Regions from separate parts of the Homo sapiens genome. Here region 1 is reported to be linked to region 2. The links are microRNA targets in miRTarBase. Many come from high-throughput screens and were not tested one by one. Region 2 holds a microRNA gene; the other region holds the end of a gene's coding sequence.
The links. Region 2 holds the annotated microRNA hsa-miR-3147 (GGUUGGGCAGUGAGGAGGGUGUGA, at 8,828-8,851, opposite strand). A microRNA usually pairs through its seed, bases 2 to 8, with sites in the 3' UTR of a target mRNA and lowers its output. Matches are read on the target gene's strand: a 7mer-m8 pairs with bases 2 to 8, a 7mer-A1 pairs with bases 2 to 7 and ends in A, and an 8mer does both.

Region 1 (15,107 bases), not on the chromosome of region 2:
CGTGGAGGATGTGGAATAACAGAAACCCTCATTCACTGCTGGTGGGAATGTAACACGGTACAACCACTTTGGAAGATAGTTTGGCAGTTTCTTACACCACTAAACATACTTTTACCATACAATCCAGCAATCAAGCACCTTGGTATTTACCCACGTGTTAAAAATTTACGTCTAGGTGGCCGGGCACGGTGGCTCACGCCTGTAATCCCAGCACTTTGGGAGGCGAGATGGGCGGATCACCTGAGGTCAGGAGTTCAAGACCAGCCTGTCCAACATGGTAAAATGCCGTCTCTACTAAAAATACAAAAATTAGCTGGGTGTGGTGGCAGGCACCTGTAATCCCAGCTACCCAGGAGGCTGAGGCAGGACAATCGCTTGAACCCGAGAGGCGGAAGTTGCAGTGAACCTAGATCATGCCACTGCACTCCAGCCTGGGGAAAGAGAGCGAGACTTTGTCTCAAAAAAAAAAAAAATTATGTCTACATAAAAACCTGTACATGGATGTTTACAGCAGCTTTATAATTACCAAAGCTTAGAAGCAACGAAGATGCCCTTCGATAGGTGAATAAACTTACCAGACAGTTCTCCGGGTGGCCTTGGGCCACCCAGTTCTCCGCTTTCTCACTTATAGTATTCAAGAATAACCGTAGATTGTTCTGGGAATGCAGCATCCTGGGATAACGAGGGACTGGACAGCACAGCCTGAGCTCTATTCCAGGCCCTCCTAGAAATAGAATATCCTTTAAAAAAAAAGAAAACAAGAAAGAAATAGGACGTCCTTCAACATTTTAGCCCACCAAGTCCTGTTGTCCCTAGGATACAAAACCCAGGGCAGTTTGCTAGTGAGGTAAGCAAGACATACACACTGACAAGACTCCATTCACCCCAGGCAGCTTTTGTGAGCCTCGGGGGACTGGCTGAGTCCTAGGCTACGCTGTCCCTTGCTGCCTATCTGTAAGTAATACATCTGGTGCGTGTAGCTTATTTGATTGGGGGGGTTTTTCTGTTCCACCCAACTCAAGCAAGTTGGTAGCCAGGGCATAATTAATCTGCTTTGAAAAACTGTGGAATAGCCAGACATTATTCAGTGCTAAAAGGAAACGTGCTATCAAACCACGAAAATGTGTCCAGAATTGGTGGGTTCTTGGTCTCACTGACTTCAAGAATGAAGCCGCAGACCCTCGCGGTAAGTGTTACAGTTCTTAAAGGCGGCGTGTCCAGAGTTTATTCTTTCTGACGTTCGGATGTGTTCAGAGTTTCTTCCTCCTGGTGGGTTCGTGGTCTCACTAGCTCAGGAGTAAAGCTGCAGACTTTCGCAGTGAGTGTTACAGCTCTTAAGTCGACGCATCTGGAGTTGTTCGTTCCTCCCGGTGGGTTCGTGGTCTCGCTGGCTTCAGGAGCAAAGCTGCAGACCTTCCCGGTGAGTGTTACAACTCATAAAAGTAGTGTAGATCCAAAGAACAAACAGCAACAAAATTTATTCCAAAAAGTGAAAGAATAAAGCTTCCTCTCTCCACCCCCCAACCCCCCCCCCCCCCCCCCCCCCGGAGAAATAGGACCCGAGTACATTGCCACTGCTGAGTCGGGGCAGTCTGCTTGCACTGCTGAGTCGGGGCAGTCTGCTTTTATTCTCCTATCTGGCCCCACCCACATCCTGCTGATTGGTCCATTTTACAGAGCGCCGATTGGTCTGTTTTACAGAGAGCTGATTGGTCCATTTTGACAGGGTGCTGATTGGTGCGTTTACAATCCCTGAGCTAGACACAAAAGTTCTCCACGTCCCCACTAGATTAGCTAGACACAGAGTGTCCATTGCTGCATTCACAAACCCTGAGCTAGACACAGCGTGCTGATTGGTGTGTTTACAAACCTTGAGCTAGATACAGAGTGCTGATTGGTGTATCCACAATCCCCCAGCTAGACATAAAAGCTCCCCAAGTCCCCACTAGACTCAGGAGCCCAGCTGGCTTCACCCAGTGGATCCCGCATCGGGGCCACAGGTGGAGCTGCCTGCGGGTCCCGCGCTGTGAACCCACACTCCTCAGCCCTTGGGTGATCGATGGGACTGGGCGCCCTAGAGCAGGGGGCAGCGCTCTCCGGGAGGCTCGGGCCGTGCAGGAGCCCACGGCGTGGGGGAGAGGAAGGGGTGGAGGCTCAGGCATAGTGGGCTGCAGGTCCCGAGCCCTGCCCAGCAGGGAGGCAGCTAAGGCCTGGCGAGAAATCCAGCACAGCAGCTACTGGCCCAGGTGCTAAGCCCCTCACTGCCCGGGGCTTGCGGGCTGGCTGGCCGCTACGAGTGCGGGGCCCGCCGAGCCCACGCCCACCCAGAACTCGCGCTGGCCCCCAAGCGCCCCGTGCAGCCCCAGTTCCTGCCCGCGCCTCTCCCTCCACACCTCCCCGCAAGCTGAGGGAGCCAGCTCCAGCCTTGGGCAGCCCAGGAAGGGGCTCCCACAGTGCAGTGGTGGGCTGAAGGGCTCCTCACGTGCCGCCAAAGTGGGAGCCCAGGCAGAGGAGGCGCCGAGAGTGAGCGAGGGCTGCCAGCAGGCTGTCACCTCTCAAAAACACGTGGAGGAACCTGAAATGCATATTACTAAGTCAAAGAAGCCAATCTGAAAAGGCTACATATAGTATGATTCCAACTCTATGATATTCTAGAAAAGGCAAAACTGTGGAGACAGTAAAAAGATCAGTGGTTGCTAGGGGTTGGTGGGGCTGGGAGGGTTGAATAGGTAGAGCATAGAGGATATTTAGGTCAGCGAAAATAGTCTGTGTGATACTTTAATGTTGTATATATGTCATTATACATTATAGAAAGTACAACACAAGTCCAGGCACGGTGGCTCACACCTGTAATCCTAGCACTCTGGGAGGCCAAGGCAGGCGGATCACTCGAGCTCAGGAGTTCAAAACCAGCCTGGGCAATATGGCAAAACCCTGTCTCTACTAAAAAAACCAAACCAAAACAAAACAAAAAAACCACACACACACACACAAAAATTAGTCAGCTGTGGTGGCACACACCTGTAGTCCTAGCCACTTGGGGGGCTGAGGTGGGAGGATCCCTTGAGCCCAGGAGGTCAAGGCTGCAGTGAGTCGAGATCGTACCACTGCACTGTAGCCTGGGTGACAGAGACCCTGTCTCAAAAACAAACAAACAAGAAAGTAAACCAACAGTGAACCTTAATGTAAACTGTGGACTTTGATTGATAATGATGTGTCAGTGTAGGTTTATCAATTGTAACAAATGTACTCCTTTGGTGGCCGGATGTAGTAGCTCATGCCTGTAATCTCAGCACTTTGGGAGGCTGAGACAAACGGATCATCTGAGGTCAGGAGTTCGTGACCACCCTGGCCAATATGGTAAAACCCTATCTCTACTAAAAATACAAAAATTAGCTAGGCGTGGTAGTGGATGCCTGTAATCCCAGCTACTTGGGAGGCTGAGGCAGGAGAATCGTTTGAACCAGGGAGGCAGAGGTTGCAGTGAGCTAAGATGTGCCACTGCACTCTAGCCTGGGCGACAGAGCGAGACTCCATCTCAAAAAAAAAAAAAAAAAAAAAAGTACTCCTCTGGTGAGGGATGTTGATAATGGGGAAGGTAGGTTATGTATGTGTAGGGACAGGGGTATATGGGAACTCTTGTACCTTCCTCTAAAAAAATTAGTCTAAAAAAAAGCATAAGGACTAAAAGCTGGGTTTGAGCTCCAATTCTGCAATTACCTGTGAGCTTCAGGCAGTGTCTCTCTGGCCTCTGGGCCTCATTTTTCTTTTTCTTTTCTTTGTTTGTTTTTTTTTTTTTTTTTTTGAGACGGAGTCTCATTCTATCACCCAGGCTGGAGTGCGGTGGTGCGATCTTGGCTCACTGCAACCTCCGCTTCCCAGGTTCAAACGATTCTCCTGCCTCAGCCTCCTGAGTAGCTGGGATTACAGGCAAGCGCCACCACGCCCGGCTAATTTTTGTATTGTTAGTAGAGACTGGGTTTCACCATGTTGGTCAGGCTGGTCTCCAACCCCTGACCTTGTGATCCGCCCGCCTCGGCCTCCCAAAGTGCTGGGATCATAGGCGTGAGCCAGCGCACCCAGCCGCTCTCACACGGTTTGAAATGTGCCAATCAGACCAACTTTTCCTAGAGGTGCCATGTACACCTTTACCTTGACAGCCACAGGCATGGCTCAGGGCACCTTTCTTCACCCTTTCCCCTCCCAGCTCAGGCGCCCATGCGTGCCCGCAGCAGGCAAAGGCCAAGCCCAACAGCCAAGAGTGGGCGGGAGAAAGCCGTGGTGGTAGCCAAACAGGGCAAACGGATGGGCGCTTCTTGCCGGCTGCGCCAATAAAACCTTTCCTCCCCTGGCCAAAGAATTCAACACGGTCTGAACTAGAGGAAAGATATAAGGATTAGGGGGGCCCACTTGCAGTAAGCAAGGGGTTCTTCTCCCAGAATCCTCCTCTTTTTGGCCTTTTAACTGTTTTTCTTTTTTTCCTTTTCTAAGTGAGAGGGCTCCCCCATCCCAGTAGTTTCTGATAGGGAAGTTAACGGAGGAGCGACCCCTGCTGGCTGAGAACTGCAAATTCAGCAGGGCACATCTGAGACACTCTGAACAGATACAAACAGCCTCTAAACCAACTTTTCAATCCCAAATTCGATTCCAGGCTTCAGGCTGAGGCCCTAGAGAGAAAAACCAGGTCCGAGGGATCCAAAGCCAGGCAACAGGCACAATGTAAATGGGCAGAACCAATTCCTGACGAGTGAACCCCCCACCACATAGAAGGAGGCCATGTTCCATGGCACAAACAGGCCCAGGGAACTCAGTTTGCTGACAGCAGGAAGAAAGGGAGGGAGAAAGGGAGGTGTAGATGAGAGCAGTTAATTCCTATTCTCCAGGTTTTCCCTGCTTCATGGGTACATACCGCATTGGTACCCATGGCTGGCACCTGACAAGGTCACCAGGGCTCAGGGACAAGAGGTGGAGGGTGCAGGGAGGATACTCGCTTTCTCTCTCCATCACACTCTGAGTATTCGCTGAAAGAAGGAAGGGAGTAGGGGACGCCTTTTTTCCCTGTCTTTCAGAATGGGCAACCAGTTCTCTTCACCACCCCCAGCTTATACTCTTCTGGAGTATAATGTATTCTGAACCATTGGGATTGCTTTGACCCTCAGCATCTGAAGGAAAAGCACCTCATAGCCCTCTGCACAAAGGTTTGGCCAAATTATGATTTATAGGAAGGACTGGCGTGGCCTCAGGAAGGGACCATTCATTTCAATACCATTGAACTAGGACCAAGCCCCTCAATTATACTAAATTGTCCATGATTGACCAGGGATTTGATGAAAATCCCACTGCCTTCCTGGAGAGGCTAAGAGGGAGCTTGGTAAAGCACCTCTCTCTATCTCCTGATTCAGTAGAGGGACAACTAATTCTAAAGGATCAATTTATTACTTGGGCAGCTCCTGACATCAGAAGGAAGATACAAAAACAGGCCCCGGGACCAGATAGTACTTTGAAGAAACTCCTGAAAGTAGCCACCTTGGTCTTTTATAATAGAGACTGGGAGGCCCAGGAAAGAGAGAGGAGATACAGGAAAGAGGCAAAAGCTTTAATGGCCATCGTGCAAGTCCACAAATCCCAGAATTCCCAGGGTGCACCTGTTAACTGCTAAAAGATATGGCAAGAACAGTTATCTCTTCTCAAGTTGAACTGCTCCTATATAAGGTTTAATTTCTTACAGCTCAGGGTACAATGTTGTTAGTATATTTTACTTCTTGTCTCTGGAATCTTTGGCACTAAATTCTTTCCTTGTATAATACACGTTTAATTTATGCACACTTAACCTTATAAAACTTGTTTTATTCTCTTGCGCCTAGAAGCCACCAAACTGCAAACGGTCAGGCAATCGGAGCCTCGGATGATGGCTCCCCTTTCCTAGGAACCCTTAGATAGACCTCTAGGAGGAGTCTGACTGCTGTTTTCCCCAAAACAATGCCCCCTATCAGCATGAAGCAGCTAAGACCAGTCATCGTCCATATTCTAAGGGCAGTTAGATGTACCTCTTCACACGGAGGAAATGATAGGGAAGTGCTGGGAAGGGAAGACTGTGGTCCTTTTAAATGATAGGGAACAGTTTAAAAACTATTGGTAACACTTCTCTTGTCAAGAAATTAGATCTTTTGATCCACTGATTTTATTTTTGGAAATGTATTCTAAGTGGGGGCCAGGCGCGGTGGCTCACACCTGTAATCCCAGCACTTTGGGAGGCCAAGGCGGGCGGATCACGAGGTCAGGAGATCGAGACCATCCTGGCTAACCCGGGGAAACCACATCTCTACTAAAAATACAAAACAAAACAAAAAAAACTAGCCAGGCGTGGTGGCGGGCGCCTGTAGTCCCAGCTACTCCAGAGGCTGAGGCAGGAGAATGGCGTGAACCCGGGAGGCGGAGCTTGCAGTGAGCCGAGATCGCGCCACCGCACTCCAGCCTGGGCGACAGAGCCAGACTCCGTCTCAAAATAAATAAATAAATAAATGTATTCTAAGTAATTGGAAAAGTGCTACAATTTATTGAACTACTGCCTGAGGGCTCTGTAGATGTATGGTCCCGTCTACTACTCATGTTACCAGACAGGTACTATCAGCCTTTTTATAGATGAGGACACACGCTCAGAGGTTAGAAAAATGCCACAAGTGCTCACAGCTACTACTGCAGTGAGTGGTACCAAAGCATGTCAAAGCCTCTGCTCGCCATACATTGTCTGTCTCTCTCTCCGTTTTTCCCAACTACAAATTTCATTCATCCATATTCCACTCTGCTGCATCTTGATCACTTGTTACCTGATCAAGGGGCAGGATTGAACTGAGTGAATAATCTGGTTCCGGGGTACTCCTGGTTTTGTAGGCCCAGTGGCTTTCCCTCCTCACCCCCACCCCCTTTCCATAGCAGAGGTGATTAGAGACCGGGGGATACTGGAGTCTGAGAAGGTAAGGGCTGTCCTTTAGAGAAGGAGAGGTAGCTAGTAATCAGGACTAGAAAATGTCTAGACAGGCCAGGCACGGCGGCTCATGCCTGTAATTCCAGTACTTTGGGAGGCCGAGGCGGGAGGATCACCTGAGGTCAGGAGTTTGAGACCAGCCTGGCCATCGTGGTGAAACCCCATCTCTACTAAAAATACAAAAATTAGCCAGGTGTGGTGATGCACACCTGTAATCCCAGCTACTCAGGAGGTTGAGGCAGGAGAATTGCTTGAACTCGGGAGGCGGAGATTGCAGTGAGCTGAGATCGCGCCACTACACTCCAGCCTGGGCGACAGAGTGAGACTCAGTCTCAAAAAAAAAAAAAAAAAATGTCTAGACCAGCGACTCGAAAACTAGTTTGGGGGCAGGCGGGTAGGGAGAGAGGTCAGGGAGGGATGATCTAGAAACTTCCTAAAGCTACACACAATTGCATATTCATGGGGGATCTGGCTATTTTTTTTTTCCAGGAAGAGGTCCAAAGAGTTTTGAGATTCTCAGATGGTCAGTGGCCCCCAGAAGTTTAAGATCCATTTAAGGTAAGAAGAGTGATTCTAGAGGAGGAGGGACCCTGGTACAGTGAGTAGCAAGACTGCAGAAGGGAGGGCTCGCCCGGCTCAGACCCCATGGCAGGCACCCCCGGGACAGCATCTCCCCACCCTCCTGAAGAGATTTTGGAACAAAAAGCAGTTCCCCATCCCACTGGGCTGAACCTAATCTTAATTCTTTGGGGATGTTCAGAAGAATTTTGTCTTGAGAAACTTTAGTGGCCTTTTTCTAGAGCTAGCTCTTCAAAAAATCTTAAAGGGCAAAAAGTTTGGAACTAACGTTAAAGTCTTCTGGAGGGAAGTCTGGGCTGGGAGGAGGGAAAGCCTGATCAATAAGAGGGGGGAGTCTGGAGGAGAAATGCCTGGGACCTTGAAACCCCAGACCATTGCCCTGGGGGAGGGCAGAAGAGCAGGCAGAAAGCAGCGTGGGCCTGAGACCTGCCCCAGGCCCAGGTGCCACAGGTGAGTGTATTTCCTTCTTGGCCCTGACCCTCCAGCAAACACAAAGCCTCGCTCTTCCAGAGGGAGGGACCAGCCCACTTACAACATGGAAACCCTTTTCTGCTCAAAGGACGACCTAGAAATCTCCAAAAGCAGATCTCTAAGCTCCTGTTTTTAACTGGGTTTTCTGAACAAGGGAGCTGAGGTGCCCTCTCCCGTGAGGCAGTGAGTTCAGGTGGTTTACCTCTGAGTCTTCCTCCAGGGTGCTTTCTCCTCTTTACCCCAAATTCCCCAAACTGTGGTCTAAAGCTTCCCTTCCTCTAAGAGTGTTTCATTTAAGAAACAGGACAAGGGTGTGGAGAGGAGGGTTCCCCCACAACAATTTTCAGTAGGGTAATTCAGCCCTTGGCTACTCCCCCTGAAGAAGGGGAAGGGTATCTCTAAGATCTGTTCTTTCCAAAAGATGGAACTGTCTTATTATCTGTCTTCCTCCTCAGTCATATAATCTATTTTGTCAGTGTCTCAGGCTCTCTTCCTTTATGTTGGCAGGAGACTTTGAGGAGGGGGTTGCTCAGTGCGAGGGTCCAGGGACAAATGTACCCAAAGCACACAGAGCCAAGATCTTGGGTGGCTTATAGGTGGGAGAGGCTCTCCCCAATCTTCAACAGAGACCAGCTCCTCTTCCCACTGAGCTCAATACCAGGTACTGGAAAATCCCACCTGATTCTCTGGCTTTTCCCATTATTACAAGGAGAGGCACTCACAATTTGTTTGTAATTTTACTCTTTCCTGCAGCCTTTGCGGGGTCCCTTTAGAATCCTGCAACAAATGGAGCCGGGGGCGGTGACACCTCCTCCCGCCTGCTTCTTTGATAATTGAGGGAACCTCATGTTGAGATCTCACACTTGTCATCATTTGATAAAAAGCTAGGTTTAACTGGCCACTGACACAGATGATTTGGGGGGAAATTATATATTTTTGGGAGGGGGCGCTGCTGAAATCCACAGGCTTCATACAATTCCAAACAAAGCCCCACATATCACTTCAATTACCACCAAACATTTCCAGTTCCCCTCCCCCAACATAAACTAACACAAGCAAACACTTCGAAGTAGGGGTTCTAACTTAACTTTCTCCCTTGTCCGGAAGACAGCCAACAAAGGGTGGTAAGGCACCATTTCTCCCATCACCATTTAGCTAAGAAAGCAAGGTCCAGGGCTGGGAGCACTCTTCTCTGCCCCACCCCCAGCCAAGTAGGTAAGGGAGAGAGGGGAGGAGGAGGTGTGGTTTGGTTAAACTAATAAAATGTTACAACCCTGTTAAATACAATTAAAAGGATAGATCTCTCAAAGATAATTAAATGCACTTTATTATTATGATTATTAGCTTTTAATTTACACTGTTAAGAAATGGAAGATGGCGAAAACTGAGTTATGTGGCATACTTGTATTCAAACTAATCCTTTGGAATTAAAATTCTAAAATATTCCAAATAGTTGAGGGAAATAATATGTGTTGGAAACTGGAGTTCTCACACCAGCAAAGATACTTTTAGACATCACTTCTCAGGAAGTTAACTTAAGAGAAGTCTTGACAGGCCAGGCACTGTGGCTCACTCCTGTAATCCCAGCACTTTAGGAGGCCGAGGCAGGCAGATAACGAGGTCAGGAGTTCGAGACCAGCCTGGCCAATATGGTGAAACCCTGTGTCTACTAAAAATACAAAAATTAGCAAGGAGTGGTGGCGTGCGCCTGTAGTCCCAGCTACTTGGGAGGCTGAGGCAGGAGAAACGCTGCAGTGGAGGTTGCAGTGAGCCAAGATCGCACCACTGCACTCCAGCCTGGGCGACAGAGCAAGACTCCGTCTCAAAAAAAGAAAAGTCTTGACTTTATTTGTAGGGGCTCAGGGGAAGATAAGAAACATCTGCTTTAAACATCCTATCAATCTTGTGATATAGAATGTAATGTAAACACTCAACCCACCCCCACAGCCACAAAGGGCCTATCCAGAGACTTCTTCTAAAGCAAAGATACCACCTTTTTTTTTTTTTTCATTTTTTTCTGGACAAATTTTAAATAAACCAGTCTTTTTCTCAAAGGAAAACTAAAAAGCCCACCAGCCCATCAGTCCCCTCCCTCCAACCCACCCGTCTTTATCACTTTTTGAAAAAAATAAGCCCCAAACAACAACAAAAACCCACACAAACCAACCCAGAAACTGCTAACCTGAACGCCAGAGATTTTTGGCTGCGGGAGTGAATAGACTGCAGGGAAAGAAGGGAAGAGATGCTAGGAGGTCTCAAACTCCCCAGATTTGCAAACAAGTGCTCAAAGGCGAATGCTTCCCCTAGACATGAAGGGAGGCAGGATCAGTACTCCTGGTGGGGTGTATGTTGGTGGGGGCTGTTTCAAAACACACTTCAAAAAGCATTTTTGGGCCACTGGAAGCACTTGGTGCAGCGAATTGAAAAGAAGAGAAGCCAGACAGGAGAAAGATCTTCCAGCCTGCAGGGGAATGGGCCAGGGGGTGGAAGCCATTCCTCACCGGATCTCTGCCCTCTCCCCACCAGCACACCCCGACCCCGATTTTTTTTTCCACGTCTTCATCTCTGTTGGGACTTTTCCAAGAGTGAGTGAAGAAGACAGGACAAATGAGTAGGGAAAGAAAAGGGGGAAGGAAACAAAACGAATCCAAGTCCTGTTCAAAAATATCCAACGGCTTCCACAGGCCCAGCGTCAGAGAGGAGGCTCACAAATTTGGCTTTTATATTAGTTGAATGGAACAAACTCCTAACGACTCAAAGCCAACAAAAACAGCGCTCAGGCTGGGTGCCTCTCCCATCAGGCCCAGCCCTGCCATATCACCAAAAAACTCCAAAAGTGGGGCGGGTTTTGAAGGGCACTTAAGAAAGAGAACCCTCCCCCCAACTACACTCCCCAACACACACACACCTCATTCTTCAGTCCTGGCGCCCACACCCCTGTTTTTTTTTCTCCTTTTTTCTTTTAAATAGAAAATATATATAATTAAATTTACAAAGACTATTTACAGTTTTAATTACAAACCTTGTGGGGGTGTTGGGCAGAGAGTTCTCTTTTAAAAAGCAACCTAAAAGTGAAATGGTTTCGATCGTTTTTTATTTAAAAAAATAAAATACGGAGTCTGTAGGGGCCCCACCCCGGGCGGAGGAAAGCGCCGCGCGGTTCCGGCCTGGGGGCGTCCCTCACACGGTGGTCTCACCGTGTCGGCTGTTGGTGAGGCGAGTGTAGAACTTCCTCCACGAGTGCAGCGTCTTGCCCGACCAGATCCAGAAGCCCGACGTGATGCCCACGATGAGCGTCATGAGGTATTTGATCATGTAGACCGTGAAGTCGGGCGACATGCGCGGCGTGTAGTGCGCCGGGCACGGGATGGCCAGGCTCTTGCAGTGCTGGCTCACCCACGAGCGCTCCCAGTGCTCGCGGAAGGCCTGCTCGTAGAAGTAGCAAGCGATGACGATGGTGGCGGGCACTGTGTAGAGCACGGAGAAGACGCCGATGCGCACCATGAGCCGCTCCAGCTTTTCGGTCTTGGTGCCGTCGTGCTTCATGATGGTGCGGATGCGGAAGAGCGACACGAAGCCGGCCAGGAGGAAGGACGTGCCGATGAACAGGTACACGAAGAGCGGCGCTAGCACGAAGCCCCGCAGCGGGTCCAGGCTGTTGAGGCCTACGAAGCACACGCCGCTCAGCAGGTCGCCGTCGATCTGGCCCATGGCCAGGATGGTGATGGTCTTGACGGCCGGCACGGCCCAGGCGGCCAGGTGGAAGTACTGAGAGTTGGCCTCGATGGCCTCGTGGCCCCACTTCATGCCGGCTGCCAGGAACCAGGTGAGCGACAGGATGACCCACCAGATGGAGCTGGCCATGCTGAAGAAGTAGAGCATCATGAAGAGGATGGTGCAGCCCTCCTTCTTGGTGCCCTGCACCACCGTGCGGTAACCGTCCTCGGAGAAGCGCTCGTTGCACACCACGCGCTCCTGGAGCACGAAGCCCGCGATGTAGGCCACCGACACCATGGTGTAGCAGCCCGACAGAAAAATGATAGGCCGCTCTGGGTAGCGGAAGCGCTGCATGTCTACCAAGTACGTGGTGACAGTGAAGAAGGTGGAAGCGCAGCACAGCACCGACCAGGTGAGGATCCAGAGGCGCGCGAAACGCGTCTCCTCCTGTGAGAAGAACATGGAACCATCGGGCCGCGCAGGTTCGCAGGGCGCAGCACAATCACGCTCGCCCAGAAACTTGTAGCTGAGATAGGATGGCACCTTGAGGACGCGCGGGCAGTGGAAGGGGTGCTCCAGCGTGGCGTAGCGCGGGGGAGCGCCGCCGCCGCCCGGGCCACCCGGGGTGCCCCCGGCACCCGGCTGCAGTCCCGGCGGCGGCGCGGTGGTGAGTAGCGCGGGAGCTCCGTCCTCGGAGTGGTTCTGGCCGACGCAGATCTGCTCGGCGCCGTGGCGCGGGAAGTGCTCGCAGCGCAGGCGCTCGGGCCACTGAAAACCGAACTTGTTCATGAGGGCTTCGCAGCCCTGGCGCGCGCGCTCACAGATAGAGCGGCACGGCGGGATGGCCTGTTCCAGCACGGTGCACACGGGTGCGTACATGGAGCACAGGAAGAAGCGCAGTTCGGGCGAGCACTGCACCTTCACCAGCGGATAGAACTGGTGCACCTCTAGGCCTGCGTCCTCCTGGTTCGTGTGGCCCAGAAGGTTGGGCATGATGGTCTGGTTGTAGGCGATGTCCGTGCACAGCGGGATGGAGATGGGCTGGCAGAAGCCGTGGTCCGGGATGGAGATGCCCTTCTCCCCGTGGAACTGGGCCGGCCCGGCGGCGGGCAGCAGCAGCAGCGGCAGCAGCAGGCGGGGCAGGGCGCTGCGGGGCCGCATGCTGGCCGCCGCCCCCCACCCGGCTCCTTGGCGCCCCCCCCGCCCCCGCCCCCAACCCGGAGACTGCGCTTCTTCCCCGCCGCCTCCTCGCTGCGGCTGCCGCCTCCCGCGCCTCTTTGCAAACTTTACTCGCGGCCGCAGAGTTGGGGAGGCCGGGCGGGGGAGGGGGCGGTGCGCCTGCCCGCTTGCTTGCCGCGGTCGGACTGAGCAGCCGGAGACACCGCGCGCTGCTGCCCTCTCTCCTCTTCCTCCTCCTCTCGCCTCTCAGCTCCCCCTCTCCCCTCCCTTCTGCACCCAGCGACTTCTTTGTGCCTCCTCCAGCCCTCACCTCGGCCTCTCCGATCCCAATTAGTCGGTTTCAAGGGGGCCCCCGCTGGCGGCCCCGCCCTCTCCTCAGCCCCCCAAAAAAGGGATCCTTGAAACCGCCCCGTCGAGCTCTAAGCACCAACCCAAAATGTGCTCTCGGCCAATCAGATTTAAACCCGAGGACCAGGCCCGAGGGCTGGATTGGTCGACCACAACATAATGAGATCAGAAACCAGATGCCAACAAAACTTTCCCCCCCTTTTGCTTTTTAAAGAGACAAGCTATTATTATATTAAGGGCTGTTTGCCCAGCCCGGGATTTCTCCGGAGTTGCCGCGGCGAGATCGGGGGACACTACTCGACCCTGGCTCACTCCTCTTCCCGGGCCGAGGTGCTCTGCCGGGTGGGGACTCTTTAAACCCTTGCCCCCGCCCCCGATCCTCGAACCCCACCTATTCCTAGTCCAATTTTTCAAATCGAGTGAAAAATCTCAAATTTAAAAATTAAAACAGACTTTAAAAAAACTAACAATTTACAAAGACCTTTTCTGTCCGCTCTTTCTGGAGCCCAGGCGAAAGTTTCACTTCACTTTACACGTAGATCCCTCGCCCTCCCCCTCCACACACCCTTAAAAAACCCTCTGAAAAATGGGATCCTGTCTCTTTAAGAGACTCTTAAAGGGACCAGGACTCCGAGGCGTAATTGCCCCGTAGCCAACACAAAGGAGCCCATTATGGTTCTTTGTGTTCGGTGGCACCTCAAAGTGAGAAAACTCAGGAACTCGGAGGCCCGGAGCTGGAGGGTTGGGGCGGGGGGCTTGGAGGGAGCGAGGGAAAGGAGAATGGCCCGGAGCTGCGGCTTCTCCCTCCCGCTTCTTCTGCGGCAAATCTTAATTGTGCAAAGTAAAGTTTAGTTGCCCTAAGGAGGAGGTCTTAATCGAAAGTTAATGGTGGGGGGCGGGGGGTGACGGGCAATTTTGAGTGAAGGGACGACTCTCTTAGGCCTGACGAACGTTTGAGGGAATTTTCCTTCTGCCTCCCCACCTCTACCTCCGCCCCCTAAAAGCTTCCAGATCCCGTCTCCAGGGCGAGAGGGGAGTTTTACCCAAATCTTAAGTGGTTCCACACCAGAGAGGGGTGGCGTGTGTGACGCGGGAGGAAACTGGGGGGTTGTGGTGAATTATCCCCTCCACATCTCTCACCTGGTAAGGGGTGGGGTGTGGCCAGCAGGGTTCCTGCTACTTTTAGAATTTTTCTTTTCCCTTCTAGGATTTTAAATTTGGAAAGGGGTCGAGGAGGAATTTGCATGTAAATCTCCTGGGCCTGATACTGGATGATGGATCAATTATTTTCTGTTGTCTCTCCCGAGGGACAGGGGAAAGGGGGGACTTAAAAAGAAGAAAGAAAATTGAGTTTAGAAAGCCCCTTTGCTTCACAGTATGGGCCAAATCCTCACAGTCTGGTGAAATGTTTCTTGCTCCAATATAGAAAAGAATTGTTTTAAACAACAACAGCAGAAGAAGAAAAATAACAAAAAGAGGAAAGGAGTAGGGAGAAGGAAAAAATATTCTAAGTAGATGGATACAAAGGGATCCAGGTTTGACAGGATTCAAAAAAAAATTTTTTTTTCCTGATCGAATGAATGATATAAAGATGTTCCGGTTTCTTACAACTTGAAAATGTTCCTTATTACATCCTGGGGAATTTGCCTTTTCCCTACACCAGGATGAAAATTTTCCTTCAAAATTGGGGCATGAGTGGGTGTCGAGGGGGATATGCCTTTTTTTGTGCATCCCATTTCCAGCCCACCCATCTCTATTCCACCAGCAAGCCCATTTTCTCTCAGAGCAGTCTAAGGATGGGAATGTTGTGCTCTCTCTGCTCCATTTG
Region 2 (15,107 bases):
AAGCCCCCCACCACACCCTTCCACTCCTGCCCTAGAAGAACCCTGGAGGGCCCTGGAGGGTTCAGTCCCATCTGTGCCAGCCCACACACATAGCTGCGAGCACCAACAGGGCCAGAGAGCAACAGGGGTCCCCACTCACGAGTTCCCATACCCCAGGCGGCACACACCCCTCACTGTGGGATCAGCAGGGCCCCTCACTCACAAATGCCCATGCCCAGGCGGCACACACCCCTCACTGTGGGATCAGCAGCCTGTAGGTGTTTCCTCAGTGTCAGACCAGGTGGGTTACTAGAGACCCCAAGACTCCAAAAACTCAAACCATACAAGGGTCAGATGAGCTTGGGGGAGAAGTGGACCAAGTTCACTTTCCATTCAGCTAAACATACAAAGATCTCTACGAAGGCCCTGGTCCTGGGGTGAGTGTCTCTGGCACCCAGGCCTCTGTGGGCATCCCTCAGCATGGAGACCCTTCCCAAGGGGGGTGGGCTGGCCCTCCCTGGCCCACCAGCCCAGCTCCAGAAGCCCAGAAGCTGACCTGAGGCCAAGGCCCAGCAGCATGAGAATTCCATAGAGCCCACGACAGCAGGTCACTCTCTGGGGGCCCAGCGGCTCAAGATGTGGAAAGTCTGTTCCTATCTCAGGATAGACCATGGGATTTTTGGTGAGTTCTGTGTTGAAATTCTCTCCCAAACTCCCCATGGACCTGGACATCCGGGGCTCATGGTGTCCACAGTGCAGCTTTGAGCAGGGATGCCGAACCCCTGTTCTTTCATCTTCCCTGGACACCCCCAGGACCATAGGACAGGCCCTGGCCCTGAAGACCATCAGGGCCCCCACAACCAGGCCTTGCCCAGCCCACTGAAATCCCAGCAGTAGGGCCATAGACACTCCCCTTGCATGGTGGCACCTGGACCTGACCTTTCTCAGGGGCCACTGAGCAGCACAGCCTTAAAGGAGCCAAGACAGCACCCAGACAACCCCAGGCAGCTCCTGCGCCCGGTGAAATCAGTGTCAATGTGGAAGCTGGACTCAGAGGCTGCTGTAGAGGAGAAGGATTGTGGCATCTTCAGAGCCCTAGCCAGCCAGCAGCCTGTCACATGTCCCCATGCCTGCCCACTTGTGTGACAGAGCCTCCCTCACAGGGCAAACATCCCAGACCTACAGATGCCAAGCCCAGCCCAAGCCCTGGGAGAAAAGGGACCCAGGAGAACCACGGGTGCCCCAGAAATAGCCAAGATAACAAAACAGGGGACTGAACTTCCTGGGGCACTGGCCAAAACTAGAATTTGGCCCAAGGAAGAGCAAGCCCCTTAAAGTAGTGTGTGGGTACGCAGGGCCCCCACAAGGCAGGCATGCCTGGCAGGGCCAAGGCAGTGACGTTACCAGGCTCAAAGAGCAACCATCCACATCGCCAAGGGTGGGATAGGAGCAGGTGGACCAGCCTCCAACCTCTTCAACTCAAGGAAGCAGCGATGGCTAGGCTCTCACACCCTGAGTGGCCACCATCCGACCATCAGTGGAGCAGAGGCCAGAGACCATCAATCTATCAGATGGTCCTGGGGCCCTGCTTCCACTGCACAAGAATGCCTTCAAGTCACATGATCAAGAAGAAGCTGGGCAAGAATGGGCCCAGGAGCCCGGGTCCCTGGGTCTGCTGTCCTCAGCAGGTGCCAAGGACAGAAAAAGTCAGAAAAGGTGTCTATGGTCAGAAAAAGTCAGAAAGGTAGTCTCACTCCTTGGAAGGAGGCTCCAAGGTGGGGACCAGAGCTGCAGGGGGAGGAGGAGCTCCTGGCAGCACTGAAATAGGCTCTGGCAGGATCCCAGAGTCTGTGGTTCCATCCTTCTATTTTTCCTTTTCTTTGAGAGCTTGGAATCTTCTTCCATTTGATGGTAAGTCTGCAGCCATGGACAATCAATTTACAAAAGGACTTCTCAGCACCATTTCCGCAGCCTGCCCTGTGGAAAGCTGATGAGAGCACACTGCTGTCTCGCACAAGTGACCATCCAGATTTCGCCAACAGGTAGAGATTATTTCTTAAATCTGTCTCAGTAATGGTATCCCCCAGACCATCAACATAGAGTGGGGGCAGACTTCTCCACCAGTGGGTCCAGATGACCCATGGTTGAAGCCTGCTCTAGAAGCTCATCTGCTATGGGGTCATTGTTTCCGCATATCGATCTTTCATATTCTGATCAGCAAGGGGTCATCTGGATCTGCAGGCTTCTCATGTCTGTGCGGACACTCCCCTCCTCTCTCACCCTCTCCTTTTACCCACAAAGAGCAAATGTGGGGCTTATTCCTTAAGTAGTAAGAGTGTGTCCTGGGCCAGTTTGAGCAGCGTGTCACTGGTAGATGCAGCTTTCCCCAGCAGGACAGCTGGTCATGTTCTATCAGGGTTAGAATTCCCTCTCTCCATATCTGCAGTCACCTTTTAAAGACAGTTCTGCATCATGAAGCTGGACGGGCAGTCCTACTCCAGGTGTGAGAGGCAGGTCTGATGGACATTTCCTGCAGGCTTGGCACCCTTCAGTCTTCTTGGAATGCATGTGCACCCCAGAGCCCCAGCCAGACACTGAATGGCCTGGCACAGATTTTGCACTTTTTCTCATACTTTTCTTTGGTCATTCAGATACATGGGTTTTCTCCAGGACACGTGTGACACAGAAGAGAGAAGCATCCTCCCAGGTTTGTCTGTTTTAGGTGCTGGAGCCCAGAGAGGTCTCCTCTTGAGAGGATCGGCAGGCAGCTGTAGCTTTTCAGGTGGGAGAGAGGACCCCCACAATCCCGCCGGCCCCAGCTCTTCTTTCTGGCTCTGTTCTTGAGACCCTGGGCAATTGCCTTTGACCGTGTGTGATTCGTCTTTCTTGACTCAAGGTGAACCTCACTTCCAAGGAATCTCCATTCCTGGAGGAAACTCTTGGCTTCCTAGTATCTCCAAGAACTGGCCTGGAAGAGACAGAGAAATGTGGATAAATCTTGAAATACTCACAGTGTATCCTTGGTACTTTTCAAAGACCCTCCCCTCTACACTGACAGGGCTTAAGGAAACCTTGTGTCTGCTGCTGGGAGATGACAAAACCTTAAATGAGAAGGTCAAGAACCAGGATCCCTGGAAAAAGAAATGTCCAATCTCTAAACTCATAGACATGTTGGAGAACATCTGTGTGTCTGGATATTTATTGTGTCCAATGATGGATAATGACTCAAAAACTCACTGGCTGTGGTGGCTCACACCATTAATCCCAGCAATTTGGGAGGCCGAGGCAGGTGGATCACCTGAGGTCAGGAGTTTGAGACCAGCCTGGCCAACATGGTGAAACCCCGTCTCTACTAAAAATACAAAACTTAGCAGGATACCATGGTGTGAGCCTGTAAACCCAGCTACTTGAGAGGCTGAGGCAAGACAGTCATTTGAACCCAGGAGGCAGAGGTTGCAGTGAGCTAAGATCGTCCCACTGTACTCCGGCCTGGGCAACAGAGACCCTGTCTCAAAGAAATAAAAAAAACCCTAACAAACAAAAATAAAATGCGAAAGCAAAAAGATTTTGGCTAAGTACTCCTGGCCTGGAAGGGCTCTTTGTTTTACATGCAGGTGATCTGTCCTGAAAAGAGGCCTCCTGGTCACAAAGTCTTACTGGGTAAGAGCTCCAAGTACACAGAGCCACAGGCCCATCATCCATGGAGCTGCCTCTGCTGCCCAGGATGGAAACATGGAAACTCAGGGTAAAGGCGACTGAGGCTAGAACAAAAAGATTAGGGGGAAAAAAAGAAAACTAATCTGAAAAAATTAAAGAAAAATATTCTAACATAAAGTAATTTTTATTAAAGCCTTGTCTCTGAATAAGTTAAATATGGCATATCACAGTATTGTACATAATAATTTAAAATTTTAACTATTGGCCAAGCACAGTGGCTCATGCCTGTAATCCCAGCGCTTTGGGAGGCCAAGGTGGGAGAATTGTGTAAACCTAGGAATTGGAACTAGCCTGGGCCACAGAGTGAGACCATGTCTCTGCCAAACAATAAAACATTAGCTGGGCATGGTGGCATGGCCTGTAAAACAATAAATAAAAATGAAACTCTAACTGTCACAAACTAAGCTACAATATTTATGTCATCATAAAGTAATAGACAATGTATTTCATTCCAAAAGAAATAATCAAGAATTGATTTCAAAATCAATTCAGAGCTTTGCCTTCTCTGTATGGTGGAAGAGCAAGAAACAGACTCCCTCTGGAACCAAACACATAGGAAGCCAGACCAACTACATGAACCAGATGTTTCCAGACACTAGAAGCATCTGCAAGGAGCACAGGACTGAGGTCTGGAGGCTGAAACTAAGGGGACCACATTGCTGCCCCAGCTTAGAGCCTGCAGAGCCTCCTGGCAGTGCAGGGTGGTTGGATATAGGCAACGCATGGAAGTCCCCACATTAAAGAGATAGGGTTGAGAATGTGAGGAGAGAAAAACACGGGGCTGAGTACCAGAGAGTAGGGAGGAGTGGCTGAAGTAGGGGTAAGATTGGTGAGTAGAAGATGGGGGCTCATTAAACCATTGGCAGCTATATGGGTAAATACCAATCAAGATAAATAATATTACCCAGTACAAAAGAGAAAAGGCACCCTACACTTTTTTTTTTTTTTTGAGACAGAGTCTTGCTCTGTCACCTAGGCTATAGTGCAATGGCGTGATCTTGACTCACTGCAACCTCCACCTCCTGGTTTCAAGTGATTCTCCTGCCTCAGCCTCCTGAGTAGCTGGGATTACAGGCACACGCCACCATGCCTGGCTAATTTTTGTATTTTTAGTAGAGACGGGGTTTCACCATGTCGGTCAGGTGGTCTCGAACTCCTGACCTAGTGATCTGCCTGCCTCGGCCTCCCAAAGTGCTGGTATGAGCCACCATGCCCAGCCCACCCTACATTTTTTTTTCAGAGCATTTTTACAGAAAACTTGTCATTATGAGTATAATATTGTCTAAAAGTAGCAGAGGAGGGAACATTTCCCAATATATTTTAGAAGGCTAGTATTACTCTCCAACAGAATCAGAGAAAGGCAGTACCAAAAAAAAAAAAAAAACCCTGGAAAACAGTATGCCTCATGAAACTCGACGTGGAAATCCCCAACAAAATGTTATTCAACAGAACCACATGCTTCACCCATGGGTGAATTTCTTCTAGGAATCATAAAGATTTGGGGAAATCAAAGGAAATCTTTTGTTAAGAATCAAAGTTGTAGACTCCTGTCTTGAGTTGATTACTTTGAATTTTTGGTCCCAAAATATATACAGGACCTGGTCTAATTCTATGATCTTTAGCACATGCAGCCAGATGCTGAAGAGAAATAGATACAACAGCGATATGGGAGTTATCCTCTCTAAACCCCAACTGAAAAACCCTGGAGTCAGAAGTTTCAGGTGAACGAGGGAAGGAGAAACAATTCAAACATTTAAATTTAAATTGCTATGAGAATACTGACTTGTTAGAAACTGAAGGAGCGAGCAATGCTTCTAAAGTCCAGCCTTTTCCATCGGAATACGGAGACAGACAACCTCGAAGTGCAGTTTCTTCACAATTGTCTTATCCAGTCATAACATTAATTTCCCTATGAATCAAATCATAAAATAAATATTAAACTCGTGACATATTCTCTGACTAAAAGAAGGCAAGATAAACTGAACGGTTAGTTGTCAGTGTAGTAAATTATGTACAAGAATCTTATCACTGCATTTTTTAATTACAATGGAATTAGAAATAATCTAAGTTTCTATAAAAGAATAAACAGTGAAACAAATCTTGTATGCCCATTGGAATACATTTAAGACATTAAAAATAGGGAGTTAGAATCTCATGCATTGATATAGAATAATGTAAATGATATATTGCCTGTGAAATAGCAAAATTAAAAAATATAGTATGATACAATTTGTGTTCAAAAACTGTACATGTATTTATCTTCTTTTTTTTGTTGGGGGGGGCAGGGTCTCACTCTGTTGCCCAGACAGGAGTGCAATGGCATGATCACAGCTCACTGCAGCCTCGACCTCCTGAGCTCAAGGGATCCTCCCTGCTTGGCCTCCCAAAGTGTTGGGATTACAGACATGAGCCACCGCACCTGGCCAACTTTATGTGTATTTATAAATTTATAGAAAACATCCAGAAGAATCAACACCAAGCTATAATAATTCCTTCTAAGAAGGGAGTGAGTTTGGAACGAAGAGGAAGACATGGGAGAATTTTGTTACATAAAGATCTCTATGATCTGCCATTATTCAAACAGCATGCATTTCTTTTATAATTAGAAACAGAAAAACATACACACATTGTTACCATTTGGTAGGAGGGCAATAGTTTTGTTTTCATCAGTATTTGAATTACAGGTGCGTGAAAGCACGAACCTGGAAGAGAAATCCCAGAGGAATAATTAGAACCAAAAAAATCGCACCTCAAAAAGTGAGTGGGTGTTATCTTTACATAACAACAAGCATTCCACGTAAGTGCTGGTCGCTGCTCCAGCTCCCTCAAATCACCTAAGCCCTGCCAAGGGGAAGGCGGAGGATAGGGAAGGCCAAGGGCCAGCAAGTGCTCTCCCCAACTGAAGGCCTGTTTCTAGAAGTTTCCTGTCATTAAGAAGAAAATGGAGTCCAAATGGGATGTGGACCCCTTCGGGATGCTGGCAGAGAAACACAAAGAATATGCCACAGTCATACCTTAGAGGAAGACTTCTAGGTTGAGACTTGAAATTCATCAAAAGCTTGTGTGAAGTAAATAAAGCTACTCTACCTCTCCAAGTGTCAGTTTTCTCACCTATAAAATGAGAACCACATGTCAACTTCATGAAATTGTTGCCAGAGTTAAATTCACAAAGATAATTAAAAATGACTGTTACTGTTACTGTAAGGGTCCACATTACTTTTTAAAAAAGAAAAAAAAAACAGCATCAGACTTCAAAATACACAAAAGGAATAATGTCCATGTGTCCAAAGATGAGATGATCAGCTTTTGAAGCAGCCTGAGGTGCATGAGAATGAGATCTATCCCTAACTAGAACTCTTCACAGCTCCACTGGAAGAGGACACACACAGGGCCCCAAGAAGCTAAGTGCATGGCCAGTGTAGAGTGACTGGTGTAGTGAGGGTGGAATCCCCAAAGACCCTCTGAAATGCAGTTACACAACAGGCTCCCAGGAAACACTGGACCAAACCAGGCAGCTGAGCAGATACTACCAGGAATGGGGTGAGCAGAGGAGGGTCAGAGCCACAAATCTCAGCAGAATACACCAAACTGCAAGGAGCTCCTGGCTCTGTGAACAGCAGCTGTGGCTGCATCAGGACCAATCTTGTGAGGCAGCTGCTGGGGACAGCTGAGATCACGTGTTTTTGCAGCCACCCACCCAACAGCAGTGCCTCTTGAACACAGATCACAAAATCCTCTCCATTCATCTTTAAGGTGACGGATGATGGATGAACTCACATTACAACATCCCCACCAACACTTGCGGACGAGTGTATTTAGAAACTCCCACCTAAAGAGGGAACAGTCAAGAGTAGAATGAGAATATTGAGGGATGGGGGAAGAATGCAGGTACTTGACCCCACAAACTCTACTGAAAACAAGGGAAGAGCTGTTATGCTGTGGTCTCCCTATACTTCACCTCACCACATCCATAGATGCCACATGGTTCTTGTTCCTTTATTGACAAAGGTGCTGATGAGCCCGTGTGTAATTGATCCTGAAGGAGTAAATTCTTCACAAAGTACAATAACAGTGTCTAATATCCATGACCAGAGTTTTTAGGCTTTTTTAAAATAGTAATCCGCATTCAGGAATCAGAAATGAAGCCTGTTGGAATGTGTGATATGAACAAGGTCTTATTTTTATGTAGATTAACACCTTGGTTTTTACGGATTAAACACAAAAGCATAAAAGCTGGAGCCATTCCAGAATCAAAGGAACTTTCCCTGAGGACACCTGGAATTAAGGGACATCAATTATTAGGAAGCTACACGAAACCAGAAGTGCTCCCAGAAGTTTCCATTGTCTGGACAGAAAAATTAAACAGATCAGCCCGAGAGAGTAAAGGTACCTCCGTGAGTGCCGGGGGTGATGAACATTCCATTCAAAGCAAAGTTGTGAAGCCTGAGGAGTTTCAAAGACTCCCCAAGTGCTCTATACCTTGAAAGTCGCTCACACAAAGCTGGAGCACCACCTGTTCCTGAGAATCAGGTTGCCATTGTGTCTTTGAGACACTGCCCAGTCAGGCCTCGGTTGAGATGAGGCCAATGATGTCACGTGTAAAATGCCTAAACTATCTTCATCTTTAGGTAGCTATTTGGGGAACTTTCCACCAAATGGGTTGGGGGAAAATGGCGCACCAGAGACACACGCCTGGGATGTGAGATTTTCTCTTCTGCTGTTAGCATCTCCTGGGTAAACCAATAATGACCCTCTCTGCCACCTCAACATCCACATCCGCGAAAAAGGCGCTGGTGAGGGTGACATTTTCATGAAGCCACAGAGCATGTTGCCCCACGCAAAGCTCTGAACTTGTGCACTGGCGGGCCGGGCGGCGGATTTCTCCCCATAGCGGCTGCACTGCGCTCTGGCTGGAGAGAAAAGAGGGCAGCGGCACAGTGGACAGTGCCTGGACCGCAGGCCAGTTCCCACAGCAGCTTAGGAAAGCAGGTGGCTCCCTGGGCTGGAGGAGGCGTGATGTCCAGGAAAGACCCCGGGTGCAGGTGGGAGAGGGAACCCAGCCTAGCAGCGGGAAGTGAGGTGAGGACCACACCCGTCCGAGTTGGACAAGGGCGAGGTGCACTTCGCGGCGTCACACCCTCCTCACTGCCCAACCCGGACCTGCCCCTCCTGTCCCTCTCCGGACTCACATCCCATGGCAAGGAGGTGTCCGAAATCAGTAGCCAGCATCGCTGTGGAAGCGGCGAGATCCACACTGCCCTGCCCAACCCTCTTGGGCTGCCCGCCTTCTCGCATATCGCCTGCTAGGATTCTAGTCCAGCCGCCTTGCCACCAACGGGCGGGGAACCGTTAAGAGCTACAGTTTCCAGCCTGCGTGGCCAGGAGCGCACCGCCCCGCTCCTCCCGCAAGAACTGCGCCCCGCCCCTGAGACCGGGGCATGCTGGGATTGCAGTCCCGAAGCGCTTGAAACAACGGGCGGGAGCGGTGAAGAGACTACAGCTCCCAGCATGCAGAGCCAGGCCGGCAGAGCCAGGCCGGCACAGCCCGGCTTCCCCCTTCAGGACTGCGCGCCGCCCCATGTTCATGCTGGCTGGGATTGTAATCCGGTCGCCCTGCAATTAAAAAACTGGAAGCTAATCAAAGATGACAAGTCCCAGTATGCCAGGCGTAGCTCCCGCCCTCCAATCCACACCTTCCCGAGTCCAGAGCAGTTCTGCCATGCCAAAGGGGAGCCTGGTTGTTCCCGAACCTCTCTTGCCTGCCAAGTGACAGCGAGACCAGGCGGCTTGTCTTATCGTGTAATTATGTCACTACCTCTCCCTGAGATGCTGGCTTCATGCTTCGTCATTGCCAGAAGTTTGATTTCTCACGGAGCAGCAGGGGACCTGGAGCTACTCGCAAAGCTGTCACGGTTGCCATATCTTGGAGCAGTACTCGCCCCGCCCCTTCTCCTCGCCCCGCTCCTTCCCTCTGCGCTGCCTCTCCCCTCGGCACCGCCCCTCCGTCTCGCCCCACCCCTGACACGCCCCCTTTGAACATGCGCAGTGTAGTCCCTGCGTAGGACGGGCTAATCGCCAGGTGTCTGACTGTTCTCCGACTTCTTGGCATCCTACGCGGGAAGCTCCCTCGTGAGTGTCTGAAACCGTCCGTTCGCTGCCAGAAATGGATATATGCGTTCCCTGATAACCTAGCACTTGCCTTTTCAAAGCCACCATTTCCTCTATCCTCTAGGCTGTCGCAAATCCTCCTGTTCATCCCAGGAGTGCCCCTTGGACCCCGGGCTGGCTGCATGACCCACACCTGGGTCAGGCCTCTCACAGGGACGCTCCTGCCACTCTGACAAAGAGTTGAAAACGTCACAGCGAAAGGCCTGACCCTGCTGCATCCAGTCAGGAAACAGCCACAGGGAAGGGAGCCCCTAAGACACTTTGGGAGCCACATCCACCGCTTCTCTGCCCCCGATCCAGGCTGGTTCCCAGACCTTGGGGTCCTAGTGTGGACCTCCCGGCCGTAATTAACGCAGGTGCAGGGCCAGAGAGCCCCTTGGTCCCTCCCAACACATAAGGGAAGTTTGTGTGGTGAGGTCATGAACAGTGTCTGCGTTTCTGCTGTGAATAGGACCTTCATGGAAACACTTAATTTCCCTTTTTAAATATCCCTTTGGAACCACGTTTAATAATTTGCTGGTGGAACTTAACAGTGATAATTCTTTGAATCCATTTTTCTTTTTTCTTTTTTTGACACGGAGTCTCACTCTGTAGCCCAGGCTGGAGTGCAGTGACTGACTCGATCTGGGCTCACTGAAACCTCCGCCTCCTGGGTTCAAGCAATTGTTCTGCCCCAGCCTCCCCAGTAGTTGAAATTACAGACACCCGCCACCTTGCCGGGCTAATTTTTGTATTTTTAGTACAGATGGGGTTTCGCCATGTTGGCCAGTCTGGTCTCGAACTCCTGATCTCAAGTGATCCGCCCGTCTCAGCCTCTCAAAGTGCTGGGATTGCAGGCGTGAGCCACTGTGCCCGGCCTGAATCCATTTTAACATTTAGTTTTCCAGATTAACTCGAAGTACCCCACGACTACACGCTAATGAAACTAGAGGAGGCACAGCCTCAGCTCCGTGCAGGAGGGACGCACAAGAGCAGAATCTCCGTGGGACATCTTTCTGGAGCATCAGTATTACTGCAGGATTTGGAAGAAACGAATTTAAATAATTTCCAACGTAAGACACTGGAAATTTAAGAGAAGGCTGGAAAGTCATTGGCCTTTAATAACTGTCAGTCATCTGTGCCTAAGTCAGACTTTCTCCAAGAAAAAAAAAAAAAAAACTCTAAGGAGAACCTATTTTTCATTCTTCTAAGTAGTTAAAATTAGAAATCACAGCAAGTCAATAGAAAGCTCTGCCCTGCTAGTCTTCTAAATCACAATATGGCCTTGGTATGGATTTATTTGTATTTTTTGGAGGGGTGTGTTGACATGTTGGGTATAAAAATTGGGGGGTTTTGACAAATTTTGGAAGTTTTCAGCTATTAGTTGGTGATTTACTTTGTACCTCATTTAATTTTCCTGTCCCCTCTTCAACTTGGACTCAATCACTCCACAGGTCTCTAAGACTCTTCATTTTCTTTAAGATTTTTCACTCTTTTATTCAGAATGGACAATTTCTATTGCTCTGTGTTCTGTTTCTAATCTTTGAATAAGCTCAAAAGTATTTTTTAAATTTCCTTATCTTCCTATTGTTTCGTAATTTCCATGTCTTTGCTGAGGTTCCACAGCTCTTCATTCATGATTAGAATATTTTCCTTTACCCCCATGAACAGATTTATAATGGCTGCCTTTAAACATCCTGAATTACAACATCTTAAATATCTTAGGATCACTTCTACTGCCTGCTTTTTAAATTGTGTATGGATCTCATTTTCGTGTTTCTTCACACGTCTCATGAATTTTAATGTTGTGTACTAAAACTGTAAAGAATCATTATAGAGACTCTCGATTATGTTGTGTACCTTTGAAAAGCAGTGTTATTGTTTACAAATGGTGTTAATTGGGCTAGATTCAAACGTCAACACCTATCTCCCCTATAGTGGGCACAGCTGAAATCCTCATTCAGTTCTTACTCACACGTAGGTCATATTTGTATTATATAGATGTGTTTCTATAACAATATATAATATACTATTCAAGTTTCATCATTATAATCTGTGTTAATTCAACAAGCTACTCCAGTGTTACTGAAAGCCAGGAGCTCAGTTTTGTCTGCTTATTGGATTTTGTATAAATCAAATTATATAGTATGTACACTTTTACATTTACTTACTTTTATGGAACATTATATTTGTGATATGCATTCATGCTGTTGCAGATAGATATAGTCTGTTCTTTTTTTTTTTCCGAGATGGAGTCTCGCTCTGTTGCTCAGGCTAGAGTGCAGTGGTGCAATCTTGGTTCACTTCAACCTCCACCTCCTGGGTTCAAGCAATTCTCTTGCCTCAGCCTCTTGAGTAGCTGGGATTAGAGGTATGCACCACCACACCTTGCTATTTTTTGTACTTTTAGTAGAGATGGGGCTTCACCATGTTGGCCAGGCTGTTCTTGAACTCCTGACCTCAGGTGATCTGCCCACCTCCACCTCCCAAAGTACTGGGATTACAGGCTTGAGCCACTGCGCCCGGCCAACAATTTTTTTTTTCATTTTAACAGTCTTTAAGTGTGCAGGTCAAAGGAATTAAGCAGAGTCACACAGTTTTACGAGCATCCTCCATATTTATAGGGAGTGTTTTTCATCTTGCAAAACTGAAACTCTGTACCCGTTAAACACCTCACCTACCTTCCTGTAGCCCCAGGAATAACTCTTCTACTTTGTGTCTCTGTAAACTTAACTACTTTAAGTACCTTGTATGAGTGGAGTCATACAGTATAGTGAAGAAATCATGAGAAAGTATAATACACACTATATAACATATGTTTATTTATTTGAACAAAAATACTAACAGAGATCAGTAGTACATGATAGAGGGAGATAAAAAAGAGAAAAGGATTGGACAGACACATTAAAATTATGACAATGATGCTCAAGTATTACAGTAGTGAGTCCCCTGCCCCAGTCACAGGGCTGATAACAGTGGAGCTGGGAGCCCAGCCCAAACTTCACTGAGCCCTGAGGCACTCTGCCCCTGCCACCTGGGCACTCAGTAGACCTGAGATTCTTCATGGCCTGGTATTCTTGGCCTTGAGGGTGTGGCTGGCCTACTGGGATGGGGCTCAGCAGCAGGACAGGTTGTAACTGTAGGACACAGCAGCAGCTGTGAGACTCCAGGAGCCACACCTCCGGCCTCCCTCCCAGTGCCTGCCCATTCAACAGGGCCTGCTGCTGACCAGGGAGCCGTGGCCACAGGATGTCTGAAACTGACCACAAGACAGAGTCTCCGCCCACCCTCTGTCAATCCGCTAGGCTCTCACCTCTCAATCAGACTGTGCGGCTCCACGGACTTGAAACCAACCCCATACCTCCTGAGTCCGAAGATGATAATTCCCTCTTGTCACGGAAGCAGCTGCATTTCTTGGAGGACTTTAATCTCCTGGAGCCAGAGGGGAAAAACAGGAGGCTGACAGGGCCTGGGTGGAAGATGCCGAAGGGCCCTTGGGGACGGAGTAAACTGGGGCTGATCTCTAGGGCTTTTCTCTTAGTAGGTCCCCTCTTCTCCAATCCCATGCAGCCCCACCCTTTTCTCAGAGTTGGATATAAACAGAGAAACAGCCCCCGCTAGGAATTTGTCCAGGATTCCTGTCCCCTACCCACACCCTCCATTGGGATGGGTCTCGTCCTCTGTGTATCAAACCCTCCCAATAAATCCAGGTTGCAGAGGATGGAGCCGGGGAGTGTTCTACCCAGGGTCAGTGGGTGGGGGTCTCTGACTTCCACATCCCCATCCTCCCCCAAAGTGAGGGCCCCAGCTGCGCCCCTTTTTCCTTTCTGGGTGTTGATCACATTTCCCTGGAAGACAGCCAGCCAAAGACCCTCAGAAAGGACCCTGGCCCATGACTTGCCCCCATCCCCACACCCTCCCACACTGCCAGGCCAGCAGGGGTGAAAAATGTGCATAGAACAGCACTGGGACCTGCATCAGGCTCTGGGCTCTAGACGAGGAGGTGTGGGAGCTGTAGCTCAGGGACCTTCTGCCCCAACACTCTCTGACAACAGACAGACAAACGGAGGCCCAGTATACAAAGAAAATGCTCGGCCACTTAGGAGCTGCCTGACTTGGGAGGGGCATAATTTCCCTCTCCTTCCGTGGGCACCGCCTGAGGGAGAGGCTGAGTCCAGCTCCTGCGGCTCCTGCAGCTTTGCAGTCAGGCAGCTCTGCAGCTTCACCACTCAGGGAACAGGGACTGGCAGCTGCTCTGGAGCCTCCACCATTCAGAGGTAAAATGGGCCTGACGCCCCAGCTCAGGGGGCATGGGGAGGACGGTGGGGTTCACACAAGAGGAGGCTTGCTGAGATGGAAGGGCTGAGTCCAAGGCTGTTTCCTCCCAAACCTCAGGATCCCGGTCCCCAACCTGCCTGCCCCAGGCTCACTCCCATCCACACAGTCCTTCATGGCAGTGTCCAGGTTCACCAGTTCAGTAAGGAACCCCCACAGAGAAGGCACATCACCTTGGCCATTGGGGTGGTAGTGGTGGTGAGCCCCCACAGAGAAGGCACATCACCTTGGCCATTGGGGTGGTAGTGGTGGTGAGCCCCCACTGTCAGGTGCCCACCCAAAACCTGCCCCCTGAAATATCACCAATCACTCCTGCCCAGACACCCCCTCCCCAGGTCTCCCACTTGGAACAGCCCAGGACCCTCAGCTGCCTCCCCCAGCCCTCCCCCTCCTCTCCCCTGTCTCCCCAGCTGGACTCCAAGGCCACTAGACACCCCCAGTTACTTCTATGGTGGAATGTTAACAAGTCACAAGGTCATGGGGTCCCCTGTCCCAGCTTTTGCCAAATCTACACTGAACCCAGCTCACCCAGGCGGTTTCTCTGCTCCCTCTAATGGAGGCATTTCAGGCCCTGTGGCCACAGGAGGGCAGGGCTGGGGGAGGAAGACCCCTTACTCTCTTGATGTGGAGGCCTCCAGCTGTGGGGGAAGAAGCCTGTCTTCCGACTCCCTGGAGCCCCTCTCACCACAGATTACTCGCCTGCTGCCCCACAGCCTCATCTGCGCTGTCTAGGGATTCGTCACCAGGTCACCCCTGTCCACTGGGTCATACTTTCCGCTCCACCTCTCGGCTGCCATCTGTGGGGCTAAGAGCAGTGTGGGAGAAGCCTGGTGGATGGGTCGCATGACGTGTCTGAGACCATCCTCACTATCTTTGCTGAGGGTGAGCACCAGGCCTGGAGAGGTGGGGCGGGGCGGGGCCCGGTGCTG

Region 1: miRTarBase lists FZD2 as a target of hsa-miR-3147. Seed matches in the 3' UTR shown: 8mer at 11,068-11,075 and 7mer-A1 at 10,602-10,608.

What each region holds. Positions count from the first base shown.
Region 1 is chr17:44,555,495-44,570,601 of GRCh38, reverse strand. FZD2 (frizzled class receptor 2) reads right to left here and starts at 13,118. Exons shown (of 1, transcript NM_001466.4): 1 at 9,340-13,118. The coding sequence starts at 12,913. The coding sequence ends at 11,216. RefSeq lists silencers at 3,234-3,434, 12,372-12,421, 12,667-12,913, 13,312-13,411 and enhancers at 11,908-12,868, 13,086-13,853, 13,854-14,623.
Region 2 is chr7:57,398,774-57,413,880 of GRCh38, reverse strand. MIR3147 (microRNA 3147) reads right to left here and starts at 8,856; the gene lies at 8,791-8,856. It overlaps MIR3147HG (MIR3147 host gene), which reads right to left and starts at 9,114. Exons shown (of 3, transcript NR_120505.1): 1 at 8,886-9,114; 2 at 5,480-5,605; 3 at 1,734-2,947. LOC105375299 (a long non-coding RNA gene) reads left to right here and starts at 9,762. Exons shown (of 2, transcript XR_927305.3): 1 at 9,762-9,825; 2 at 10,744-11,884.